Homo sapiens: one gene and its partner. The protein of the gene in region 1 interacts with the protein of each later gene in a pairwise test. Each region holds a gene or a part of one and is shown on either strand. Other genes may lie near its edges. The genes, in order: CTU1 and URM1.

Evidence for each region.
Region 2: the proteins of CTU1 (region 1) and URM1 interact in binary tests that used the Homo sapiens proteins (3 or more experiments, as listed by UniProt).

Annotation. Positions count from the first base shown.
Region 1 is NC_000019.10:51,105,229-51,113,192, forward strand, and holds the start of CTU1 (cytoplasmic tRNA 2-thiolation protein 1), read right to left. Parts: upstream 3,182-7,964; 5' UTR 3,119-3,181; intron 1-3,118.
Region 2 is NC_000009.12:128,388,092-128,392,516, forward strand, and holds the end of URM1 (ubiquitin-related modifier 1), read left to right. Parts: exon of another isoform or gene 1-1,169; coding exon 1,170-1,218; coding exon of another isoform or gene 1,219-1,422; exon of another isoform or gene 1,423-1,574; coding exon 1,575-1,643; 3' UTR 1,644-3,925; downstream 3,926-4,425. UniProt on the Homo sapiens protein: Acts as a sulfur carrier required for 2-thiolation of mcm(5)S(2)U at tRNA wobble positions of cytosolic tRNA(Lys), tRNA(Glu) and tRNA(Gln). Serves as sulfur donor in tRNA 2-thiolation reaction by being thiocarboxylated (-COSH) at its C-terminus by MOCS3.

The DNA of each region.
Region 1 (7,964 bases):
GATCACACCTCTCAGGAGACCAGCTGGGGTTGCACACATTTTGAGGGTGAGAAAATGGGTGGGCCTCCAAGATTGAACTCAACCCTGCTCTGGTATCAGAATGCCCCACAAGCTTCTGTGCTCTCACCAAGACATGGATCGGCCCATCTTTGACCTTCATCTGTTATCTTTCCTACTTCATTCTTCCCCACCCAGCCTAGACTCCAACCCTCCAGTCAAATCCTGGTCCTGCCTGCCTGGTGAACCCATAAAAACTCCCCAGGCTCAGTTCTCCTCCCCAAGCCACCATCACCTCCAGCCTGGACTACTGTAGTCACCTCCTTGCCATTCAGAGCAGGTCACGCTGCTTCTAGGATTTACCACAATGTGTGGAATTATTTTATGTGACTATATATTTACCATCTCTAACTTCTATGAGGGCAGAGACCAGTACCACTCAGATGTCTAATAGGCATCTCAAAACCCAAATTCCTGATTCTTCTAACCCAGCGTGCTTCTCCTGGAGTACAGGGCAGCTCCATCCTTCTAGCTGCTCAGGCCAGGAGCTTTGGGGTCCAGGACCCTGGACTGCTCTTTCTCTCACTGCACTTGTCATGCTCCCAGTGGGTGGCACCAAACTGCAATGCCAAGTCCGGACCTTTTCAAACTCCAGGTACCTAAATGAAATTTAGCAAATCCTGTTTGAATGTAGTTTCAAAACAGCCAAACACTTAGGACCGTCTCCACGGCAGCACCCTAGTCTGGTCTGTCTCTCTCCTGGACGGCTGCATGGGGCTCCCCACAGGTCTCCTGCTCCCGCCTTGCCTCCTCTACAAACACTCCTTCACATAACAGCCAGTGGGATCATGCCCTGAATCTTCTCAGCATCCTCCCCTGGATCCCATCTCACTTTAGTATAATAACTGCTAATGGCCGATGAGGCCCTACATGTGTGGCTCCTTGTTTCTCCAACCTCCTCTCCTTCAGCCTTGATGTCGTTTACTCTGACACCTGAGGAATACTCCTGCTCCAGATGTTTGCACTGGCTCTCCCCTCTGCCCTGAGTACTCTTCCTGCCACTGAGCCCAAGAAGCAGCCCTTAGGACTCATCTGCAGTGACCGTCGGGAACATCTGTCACAGGTGAGCAGCAACTCTTGGAATCTTTCTTCCCCCGACTTTTGACTCACTCCTTCTGTGCTCCTGGATTTCCTGCTCAATTCTCTTTTGGGGACGCCTCTTCATGTCCTCAGGTCCTGCCTAGCACCCATCTCTTTCCATTTTTTAAAGATTTTTAATTTAATTTAATTTAATTTTTTGAGATGGAGTCTGGCTCTGTTACCCAGGTGGAATGCAGTGGCACAATCTCGGCTCACTGTAACCTCTGCCTCCCAGGGTCAAGCGTTTCTCCTGCCTTAGCCACCCGAGTAACTGGGACTACAGGCGTGTACCACCATGCCTGGCTAATTTTTTTTTTTTTTTTTGTATTTTTAGTAGAGATGCGGTTTCACCATGTTGGCCAGGCTGGTCTTGAACTCCTGACCTCAAGTGATCCGCCCGCCTCGGCCTCCCAAAGTGCTGGGATTACAGGCGTAAGCCACTGTGCCCAGCTTCTTTCCATTCTTATGAGCGCCTCTGAATCATGATATTCAGATGTCCCTCCTGGCTGGTCCTCCACATGGCTGGGGCACCTTAAAGATGTTCAGACCCTAAGCGCCCAGACAACCTATTTCTTCCTCGAAAGGCAGAAACCTGTTCTTGCCCATCTGTTCCCTCTCTTCTGAGAGCAGCCACCACCTTTCATCCAGCCCATCTGCAGGACAGGACGTAACGTCACCCTGGACTCATCTCTCCTCACCCCCTAAATCTACAGTCACCCAGTCCTGGGGGGTCCACGTCCTGAGGAAGGGAGACGCTCGCAGGGGACAAGGCTGCACAAGTTAGCAGAGCCTCATAGGCCATGATGTGGAATTTTAGGTTTATTCAGGAGGAGATGGGAGCCTTGGGAGGTTTTTGAACAGTAAAGTGGTATGATCTGGCATGTTTTAAAAGGATTCCTAGACTGGTCAACATAGCGAGACCCCATCTCTAAAAAAATAAATAAATAAATTAGCTGCACCTGGTGGCACAGGCCTGTAGTACCAGCTACTCAGGAAGCCAAGGCAGGAGGATCACTTGAGCCCAGGAGGTCAAGGCTGCAGTGAGCCATGATCGCACCAGTGCACTCCAGCGTGGGTGATAGAGTGAGACCTTGTCTCAAATAAAAAAAGTGGGATTCGTTTGGCTGCTGTGTGGGGAGGACTGTTGGTTGTCAGGGACAAGGACAGAAGGCTGGAGGTCAGCACACTAGACAGGAGTGCTGGCAGTAGAGGTGGGAAGAAGTGAAATTTTGGATCTATTTTGAAGGTGGAGCCCACAGGACTTGTATAAGACTGATTGGAGTGGGGACTGGGGCAACGACGAGAGAAAGTGATGAAGGGTAACTTTGAGGTTCTGGCCTGAGCATTGGAGGGACGGTGGGGCCATTTTGTGAGGTGAGAAGACCAGGAATTCCATTTGGCCACGTCAGGTTTGACATGCATGTTAAGCGTCTTCCCTCAAAGACTTTATGGACCCTCGTCACTGAGTCGAGCGCCTCCACCAGGGCCCTCAGAGCTGCCCTGATCCTGACTAGCTGTCACTGGTGACAGGTCTGTCTCTCTGCTTCAAGGCAGGGACAGGGTTGGTCTGGTGCCCTCGCTCCCGCCGCCCTGCGCAGAGTCGGTGCTCAGTAAGTATCTGTAGGATGAGGGAATAATAAGTGCTCCCAGAAGAGAGGCCGCGGACCCCAGGGATGCCTCTGGATTGCAGCCTTGTCAAAAGGACAGATAATGTGTGGCATGGGGGCGGGGACAGGCAGATAGTAACATAGGGGCGGGGGCAAGCAGATGGTCTTATCCTGTCTTGGGGAAGGGAGTGGCCCGGTAAGAGACAGGCCGGACCGCAGCGTTCAAAGTGGGAATCCTGGCTACAAGGCCTCAGGGACACGGGCGCTGGGAAATCACAGAGGCCTTACGCTCGAAGAGACCCTCAACCCTCCCACGGCACCGCAACAAAGAGCCGGAGTCCACATGCCGACCCACCGCAGGAGGAAATACTCACCCGGGCAGAACTCAGTGCTGGGATGCCCACACTGCCCACCACGCGGAAGCCTGGCCCGGAAGTGACTCCGAGACTACCACTCCCATAAGGTCTTGGGGCTTTCTTGCCTAGAACTCCCAGAAGCCCATGCGACACTTCCGCTGGATGCGCCTACGGCTCCGGGGTCCCGCTTGGCCTACAACTCCCAGAAACACTTGCATTGCTCTTTCTGCCGCTCCCAAAATACACTGCTCCCCCTCCCCCCGCGTTTACTTTCTGCGCCTGCGCGCGGCCGCAGGGAGCGGCGGAGCTGCGTGTACTGTTGTCATGGCAGCGCGCTGTCACCCGGCAGGTTGCTGGATGGGCGAAGTAGTTGTATTCTGATTAACTGATTTTGTGGGATTATTATAGGATTTTAAGGGGATTACAGGGCCTATGATTTCTGCCCTTTGAGGCGGGGTTGCGGGTGGGAATTGAAGGTGGAACTGCAGGGGTTGGTCGCTAGTGTAAAAGGCGCAGATAGCGCATGCGTAGAGCAGACTTCGAGGATTGGAGTGGAACTCCGCGCGCACGCGGGGGCTGTCGTGATGCGCGTGCTGGAGACCCAGACTCTAAACAGAAGGATCCAAAGACCCTTCTCACCTAACCCAGGAGCCCAGAGGCTCAGAGACTCAGACCCTTGAGACTAAGGGGGTTAAAAACGCAGACCCCTGGCACCAAAGCACCTGAGAGAACCAGTAGACCTGGAGACAACCGTCTGCACCCTAGACACAGGGATCTGGAGGCCTCCACCCTCCCCACAAGGCCCAAGGGTCTTGAAGACCCCGGTGACTCAAATACCGGGGCACAAGGAGTTTAAGGACTCAGATATCTGAGACCCTTGAGATCCAGGTCCCCAAACCTAGGTCCTCGAAAAAACTGAGGCTCAAAATTCCTCTAGACGGCGCGGTGGCTTACACCTGTAATCCCAGCACTTTGGGAGGCCGAGGCGGGTGGATCACGAGGTCAAAAGATGGAGACCATCCTGGCCAACATGGTGAAACCTCATCTCTACTAAAAATACAAAAATTAGCTGGGCGTAGTGGTGCGCGCCTGTAGTCCCAGCTACTCGGGAGGCTGAGGCAGGAGAATGGCTTGAACCCAGAAGGCAGAGGTTGCAGTGAGCCGAGATCGCGCCACTGCACTCCAGCCTGGCCACAGAGTGAGACTCTGTCTCAAAAAAAAAAAAAAAATCCTCTAGATTAAGGGACCACCAGAGCCTTAGACTGAGATGTGGAGATGTGCAGAGAGCCCCAGGATGTGTAGGTCTACGGCCGGTGATGACGTGAGAAGGAACCCCATGCACCCTGTAGCCCATTTTTTTCCCCCATAACAGGAAACCATGATGCCTTCCTTTCATATTAAATGAGCTCCGTGAGGTCACTCTTAAGCCTTATCATGGGCCAGTTCTGTTCATCTGTGTGCGTTGGTTCATTTGTTGAATTTATTTCCTGAGGTCTCCTTGTGCCAGGCTGCCCCTGGGCTAGGTTTAGGTGACACAAATGAATCAGACTTGGTTACTGTCCTCTGAGCATCCCCCACCCCTTACACCACCACCCTGTCCTCCTGGTGGGGGAGACAGGGACTTAGTCAATATGGAGTGATAAAGCTTGACATGGAAGTGTTAAGAGCCTTGAAAGCTCAATTTCAATCACTGCCAGCCAGGGTGTCAGAAAAAAAAAAAATTCAACAAAGGCTGCTATGTGCCATGCATCATCTCAGTTTGTTCATCTGTGAAAGGGGGGCAATAATAGCCTGCCTCATAGGATTTATGCGAAGTCAAATTGAATTAACAACACCTCTAAAGAATTTAGAACAGCTTCTGGCACATAGTATGTGCTCAACAAGTGGTTATTATTCTCATCTCAATTCTCATAACATTAAGATTATATGTTACATATGAGTTGGGTACAACTGTAATTCTTCTTCTTCTTTTTTTTTTTTTTTTTTTGAGATGGAGTCTCACTATGTCACCCAGGCTGGAGTGCAGTGGCGCGATCTCGGCTCACTGCAACCTCCACCTTCTGGATTCAAGTGATTCTCCTGCTTCAGCCTGCTGGGTAGCTGGAATTACAGGTGCGCTACCACACCTGGCTAATGTTAGTATTTTCAGTAGAGACGGTGTTTCACCATAGTGGCCAGGCTGGTCTCAAACTCCTGACCTCAAGTGATCCCAAAGTGCTGGGATTACAGGTGTGAGTCAGCATGCCCAGCCTTGTAATTCTACTTAGGTGAGGATCTTGAAGCTCAGTGATGTCACTTCCCTGGACTGCCTGACTCTACAGCAGGGGTTGCAAACCTTTCCTGTAAAGGGCCAGGTAGCCAATATTTTAGGCTTTGTGGGCCACAGGGTCTTTGTGGCAACTCTGCTGTTGTATGTTGAAAGCAGCCATTGATATAAGATAAGCAAGTGAGGGTGGCTGTATACCAATAAAACTTTATTGATGGACACTGACATTTGAATTTCATGTAATTTGCATGTGTCAGGAAATATTCTTCTTTTGAAGAATTTTGAAGATTTTACACCATTTAAAGATGTAAAATCATTTGTAGCTTGTGGGCCATGTAAAAACAGGCAGCAGGCCCGATTTGGCTGGTGGTCTCTGGTTTGTAGCTCCTTGCTCAAAGCCTGTCTCCTTAGTCTCCAAGCTGTGCTTGCTCCTGGAAGAGGTGTGAAGTGTGGCAAAGGAGGTTGAGAATTTGAGGGTCGAAATGGCCTTTTAATACAGAAGAAATCGCCTGAGCAAAGAAAGATCTTGTGGCAAGAAAGCACAGGGTGCCTTTTGTTTGAATGCAATTTATGTTATCTAATCAGGTTATGCACTTAAATGCTATAAAATGGAAACAGTGCATAGACTCTACAGTGAAGTCTCCCTGTCGTCTCCCCCCACCCACCCACTGTCTAGTTCTCCTCCTCAGAGGCAGCCTCTGTCCTGCAACAATGTGGGAGTGCATGCTGAATCGGGGTGTATAGAGTTTCCCCATTCTCCTCTGTGGGACCAGGATAAGAGTGGGATATTTGGGGCTCCAGAGATAGATGGGAAAAGAGGTGAGGTCAGCCATGAGAAGCCCTCTCACTCCCAGCCCTCTGCTGTCTGGTTTCTTTCCTGTCTCCCCTAACACAGTCTCCCGATCAACACCAGTGGCCTCTTTATTGACAAATAAAGGTCTAACCTGGGCTCTACCTACTTCTGAGTCTCTTTGCCCTGACCACAAAATCTACCCTCCCTGGTCCTCTTTCTGGCCAAACCATGTCAATCAACTTGCCAGGAGCCTTGTACTCCACAGCGCTGTCATTTCTCTGCAAACTCCCCAGGTGAGCTCATCCACTCCTGCCACTCCCGCAACTTCCGTCTCTGCCCTGATGCCTCCCCACTTTCCTGCATATCTCCACTGCATCCCGAGACTCGGACCTGCACAGTTAGCCCCTGGTGGTGGCACTGGCATGCTTCAGCCTCTAGGTGAGGATCCTGAATCACTTCGCTGACTCTTTTTCTCACCCACTGCTCCCCATTGTTCAGTGAAACTTGCCAGTTTTGCTTCTTGAAAGTTTCTCAGACCATTCCCTTCATCCTTGTGGCCCTGCCTTGGCTCAGCTCATCCTTTTTTTTAAATTATTCATTTATTTATTTATTTTTTTTGAGATGGAGTCTCACTCTGTCACCACAGCTGGAGTGCAGTGGCATGATCTCAGCTCATTGCAATCTTCGCCTTCCAGCTTCAAGCAATTCTCGTGCTTCAGCCTCCGGAGTAGCTGGGATTACAGGTGTCTACCACCATGCCCAACTAATTTTTTTATTTTTAGTAGAGACACAGTTTCACTGTGTTAGCCAGGCTGGTCTTGAACTCCTGACCTCAAGTGATCTGCCTACCTCGGCCTCCCAAAGTCCCAGGATTACAGATGTGAGCCACTGCGCCGGCCGTTTCTTGCCTGGACTCTCTCACCCCAACCTCTAATCCCTTCATTCCTGAATCCTCCCACACTAGCCCCAGATTTAACCTTGTCTCTCCCCTTCTCGAAACTCTTCCATGGCTCCCCATTGCCATCAGGCTTTCCATTGTCAAACCTCTGCAGACTGCAACGGAGGTGCTGCATGATCTGGTCCCTGCACACCCTTCCAGCCTCAGAATGCCTTGCCATCTCCAGGTCATCTAGCTGCCATCCTAAGCAATCCGCGTCTGGTGGAAGATATGGTGGCTGGGCTCAGCTGTCTCTCTCCAGCTCTGGGAGCTTTGGTTCCTGCAGCATCAATGTGCATCTCTGAGGGCCATTTCCTATATCTGGTGCTTGTTACTGGCAGCACTTGCTTCCCCACCCCTCGAAGGGCTAGAAGCTTCCCTGGGTAGAATTTCTGCATGAAGAGAGTTCGTTCACCCGTGGAGCCTACTGAGGAACGGGATTTTTGTCTGTGGTTGGTTGGTTTGTCTGTTTTCATTGTAGTGTATCAAACAGTCCTTATTTTGCCCTAAGTCCAGCTCTGTCCCACTGCCTTCTTGTTAGTTTTTGCATCTCCTTACTAAATGGTAGGTCTGCCTGGGTTCCCACAGCAGTGCTAATAAACTTTGTTGGCCAGAGGAGGCACCAGGAAAGACTCTCTGTTGGCAACACTCTCTGAAGGGCCCTCTGTTTCTCTTTGGCCTTGTCTCTCGTTCTCCTCATCCCAGGAGCCTTTTATGTGAGTTTCCACAGCTCCTCCTCGCACCCTCTCTTCTCTCTGCACTTCTCGTGGCTCCCCCCGATGTCTTGCACACCATGCTGTTCATCCCAATCTGCTCTGAGCCCCAGACAACCACATTTCCCCCCTTCTCAGTGATGGAACCATCATCA
Region 2 (4,425 bases), on another chromosome or scaffold:
TGAAAGGAGCCTGGTGAATTTCTCAGAAAACTTGGATTCTGCCCTCTGGTTGCCACAGACTTGCTGTGGGACCTTAGGCGACTTACTTCGCTTCTCTGGGCCTCAGTTACTCTCTACACAGAAAGTGCTGAGGAAAAAACGTAGCTAGTACAACTGAAGAGCTAAATATTCTGTTTTATTTCATTGTAATTTAAATAGCCACATGCAGCTAGTAGATTACCATACAGTGCAGCACGGGTCTAGAATTCCAAGGAGTCATTGACTCTGTGCGTGCACACACCCATGCACATGCACACACACTCACTGGGGACACCCCATAGAAGCCCAGTGCAGTCTCCTTGGAAAGGACCAGGTTCCAGTTGCCACGAAGTTACTTCTAAAACAAGGCCAGTCCCCCACGTGAAAGGTGGCCGGTGCAGTTGTGAGGCTCGCTTATTTGCCTCGAAGCATAGGTCACTGTCAGGTCCTAAGGGATCAGGCCTAGGGGATCAGCCCTCCTTCAGGTCATGGTCCAGTGGTCCTGGAGGCCACCTCTAAGGCCAGCAGTGCTCCTTGGGCCATTACCAGTGGGAGCCAGGCTAAGCTGCCTGACCAAATGTTGACCTACCCTGCCTTATGCCAGGCAGGACTGCACGTGAGCATTGCCATGTGGCATGGCAACTGATTCGGAAGAGGCAAAACAGCCTTCTCTCCAGGATGGGCATGCAGAGGCCTAAAAAAAAGCCGAAGTTCTTTTCCAGGGCTAACGAGAATAAGATTAGACCCCTGGAAAAGTCCTACTAATGGTTACCATGACAGTGTGGCAAGCACTCCACACATATCAGCTCATTTCGTTTTCGTATAGGCCTTGTGGGTTAGACAGTATCACTTATCCCATTTTCAGATGAGGAACCTGATACTCAGAAACAAAATGACCTGCCCATGGTCTGGGTGGTGGTGCTGGCTGGCATTTGCACCCATTTTCCATCTGGCTACAAAGACCATGCATGACTGACCTGGTTTCCTTCACACTCAGACCAGCCTCCCCTTCCTGGGATATCTTTAGCCAGACCCCAGGAGGAAGGCTCCTCAGCACACTCTCCTGCAGCCCAAAGCTCTCAGCCTCTCTTCCTCTGTGCTACTGCCTCCTGCCTCTCACTCCTTGCTACTCACCACCATCTTTCCCACAGGCGGCCAGGAATTCTGGTGCTGATTAACGATGCCGACTGGGAGCTACTGGTCAGTACCTTGGGGGACATCCCTCCCCCAGCCCCTGCCCTTGCTGCTTCAGTGGGAAAGCGTTGGGCCTCTCCTCAGGCACATATAGAGTGGCTGGGTAATCCTCCGCCCCACTCCAGCCCCACACTGAGGCTGCTGGAGTCTCCCACTCCAGGTGAGGAAGGGATGGGTAGCTGGGGACATGGGAGTACTCCTCCATCCTGAAGATTTGCAGGTTGAGGTATAGGATACCCATTTTTCTGGTAGAGTCTGTCTCTTCCAGAGCAGCCAGTCCTCAGCCCCTGTTCTCCCAACTCCTGGGGTGGACCTGGGAAGGTGGCCCTGAGGGTCTCCCGCTCCCCTCTCTCCCGCACCAGGGTGAGCTGGACTACCAGCTTCAGGACCAGGACAGCGTCCTCTTCATCTCCACTCTGCACGGCGGCTGAGGGCCCTTCTCTGGGCCTGGGCACCCTTAGAGGGGAGAACGAAGCAATCAGACATCCCCTTGGGCCCTGCTTCCAGGTCTCCCTGTCCCCCTTGCCTGCCTTCTTCCCTGCTCTGTCCCCTAAGCTCCCTCCAGGCAGGGAAAAGAGGCCAGGTGCTAAAAATGAGCCTTTCTCAAGCACGTGAGCAGCGGAAGGCAGACAGGCGCCAGAGCCCAGCACTCCCTTTTCCAGCAGCTGTGGTGGGGGAGGGTTCCCCTCCAGTTTGTCAAGAGTTGAAGGAGGCTCTGTGGCCAGGTGACCTGGCTGCCTTCCACTCCTTGTACCTCAGTCTAAACATGGAGTGGCCGCTGACAAGGCGCTCCAGCCCCAGAGCCAGCGTCTTCATGGGGAAGATGAATGGACCTGAGTAGCTGAAGGAAGGCCCCTCCCTACCCAAAGACTGGAGGCTTCTCAGCCTCAATTTCCCTGTCTGTACAGCTGAGGGCTCTGCCTGTCCCCCACTGCTATCAGTATGGAACCCCAGCTGGGGTCCCCTATTGAGTGCCGACTCCCCCCACCGCCAGCAGCTGCTCCTCCAGCCACACCCCTCCTGCTCCCCCCACCCCTAGCCCTTGACCCTGGCTGGCCTGCCCCGCTCCACAGGCCACCAGATGGGCTCCTGAGACCCTCCCCAGGCTGCTTACAGCTCATTCTGCTGGGGGTAGAGATGAGGGGAGGGAGTAAGTTAAACCTTGGACTAGCAAGTAGAAGCCTGGGGGGATGCGTGTGCCTCAGTTTCCTCCTCCACAACTGAATATAGTGGCTGAAAACTGGGGAGATACTTGATGGCGCGAATGTCCGTTTTCTCTCCCTTCCCACCTCCTGCAGGAAGCAGGACGGGGCAGGCAGCACCTGGTAGGCACAGTGCTTTGCCCCTCCTCCCCTTCCCTTCTGGAAGTCTTGGGGCCTCAGTGCTTGCAACAGCCGGCCTTGGGCAAATAAAAGACTAGGTTGTTTACTAGCCTTGCTTGGAGCTTCATCCTTGGAAACGGGTGGCACCTCATATCCCCCCAGCCGTGGTCTGTGATACAACCTCTCCATCCTCAGCCTAGGGCCTCAGAGCTACCCTTCACCCAAAAGAGGGGTGGGGGTGAACACTCAGACAATCTGAGAGGGGGTAGTCTAATAGAGCCATCTGGAGAAGGGAGTGGCAGAGCCAGTCTGTGCTGACCAGTCTGTGTCCCGGGACGCATCCCCACCCGTCTGTCCAAGGCTTTGTCCCACCAGCTGCAGCCAGCAGCCTCAGAACCCAAAATGAGGGTAGCATAGATAAGACTGCTGAGCCCCCTTTCTGTGGTCTTTCCTTTCCATGACCTAGAGAAAAGAGCTTTGCTGGAGGGAGACCCCCAAAAAGAATTAGGGTGCTAACATCCCACCAAAAGCATCATCCCACCCAAAATGTTGCTTTTCATTCTATGTCAATAATTTAAGGTGGAATTTCTCTCACCCTGTGGAGATGAAAGTGGCAAAAGGTTGTCCCAGCAGTGTTGGGGGATGGGGTGTGCACATCATTCTTTTGGGGGTAGATGACCTGCTGGCTGGTGGGCTTTTCTCCAGGACTACTGCAGGTAGAGACCCTCTGGGCTTGTGTGGAGTGGGAGCAGCCGTGTTGGGACTATGGGGAGGAGCTGGTCTGGGTGCAAATTAAGGCCAGTGTTGGGGTCTGAGTGCTGTCCAGAAAGGCTGTGTGACCAACCCTCACTAGTTCCTGAGGTCAGGGTCTCCATGTTAGGGAACAGAGCAAGAGACTTGGAACAGCTCCCTACAGCTGCACTTCTAGAAGGTCAGCCTGTCCGATTCTTGTAACCTGGAGGTCCCTCCCCATCTGCAGCCCCCTGAGCTGCAGGAGCGGCCCCATCAGTGCACCTGATTGGAACACACTAGATTTCAGGTCCTGGAAACTGGGCGCTAGGATCCGTTTCCCTGGCTGCAGAGAGTGGGAGGTGTGATGTGGAATATCCCTTCTCCCAGCACACCCCAATTAATACTGAAGAGTAGGGCAGGAGGAGGTGCTGGGAAAACCGGGTTTCTTGGCACATGGGGGTGCAAGCACTGTGGTTGAAATTGGCCATGTCCAAGGCACACCAGACGATTTCAGGTCATTTTTAGCCCTAGACTGGAAAGGGGTCAGGGGACAGGTGACCTGGGCTCAGCCCCCAGCAGCTCCCAACTGCCCCTCTCCCAAGCAACTCCTGATCCCTGCTTTTGAGGAAATAAACAAATAAAACCCCGCTATCTCCGAAGATTTTTCTTTAATGAAAAGGATTCGTTTTTCCAAATTCTATTTCCAAAGCCGAGGAGATTGCCGGGCTGGAGCGCATCGTTGGTGACGCTTGCCCGTCGGACCCTGGCAGCGGCTGGAGGAGGCTCAGCCCATCGGTCCGTCCGGAGGGGCTTGCGGGAGGGGTTGGTTTGTTTGGGATTTAGGGGTTGGTTGAGGATTTGTTTTGTTTAGGTAGGGAGTATTGGGGTGATAAGTTAGAACAACTGCGAAACGAGTTAGCGGGCGCATTCGGCCGGCCTCTTCTTTCACCCCCGACTTCATGCGGCTTGGGCTGAGGGCGGACCACATTCGGCCCCGCCGCTGCGTGCCGGCTTCGTTCCGGCCGAAATTTGAAAGGAGGAAAAACGACGCGATCGACTGAAGGACCCTGCCGGCCGGGACTGGTCACCCGCAGAGAAGGAAGAAGGACGAGGATGCGGATGGCGGCGCTGGTGGCAGGGACCGGCGTCTCTGTGCGCG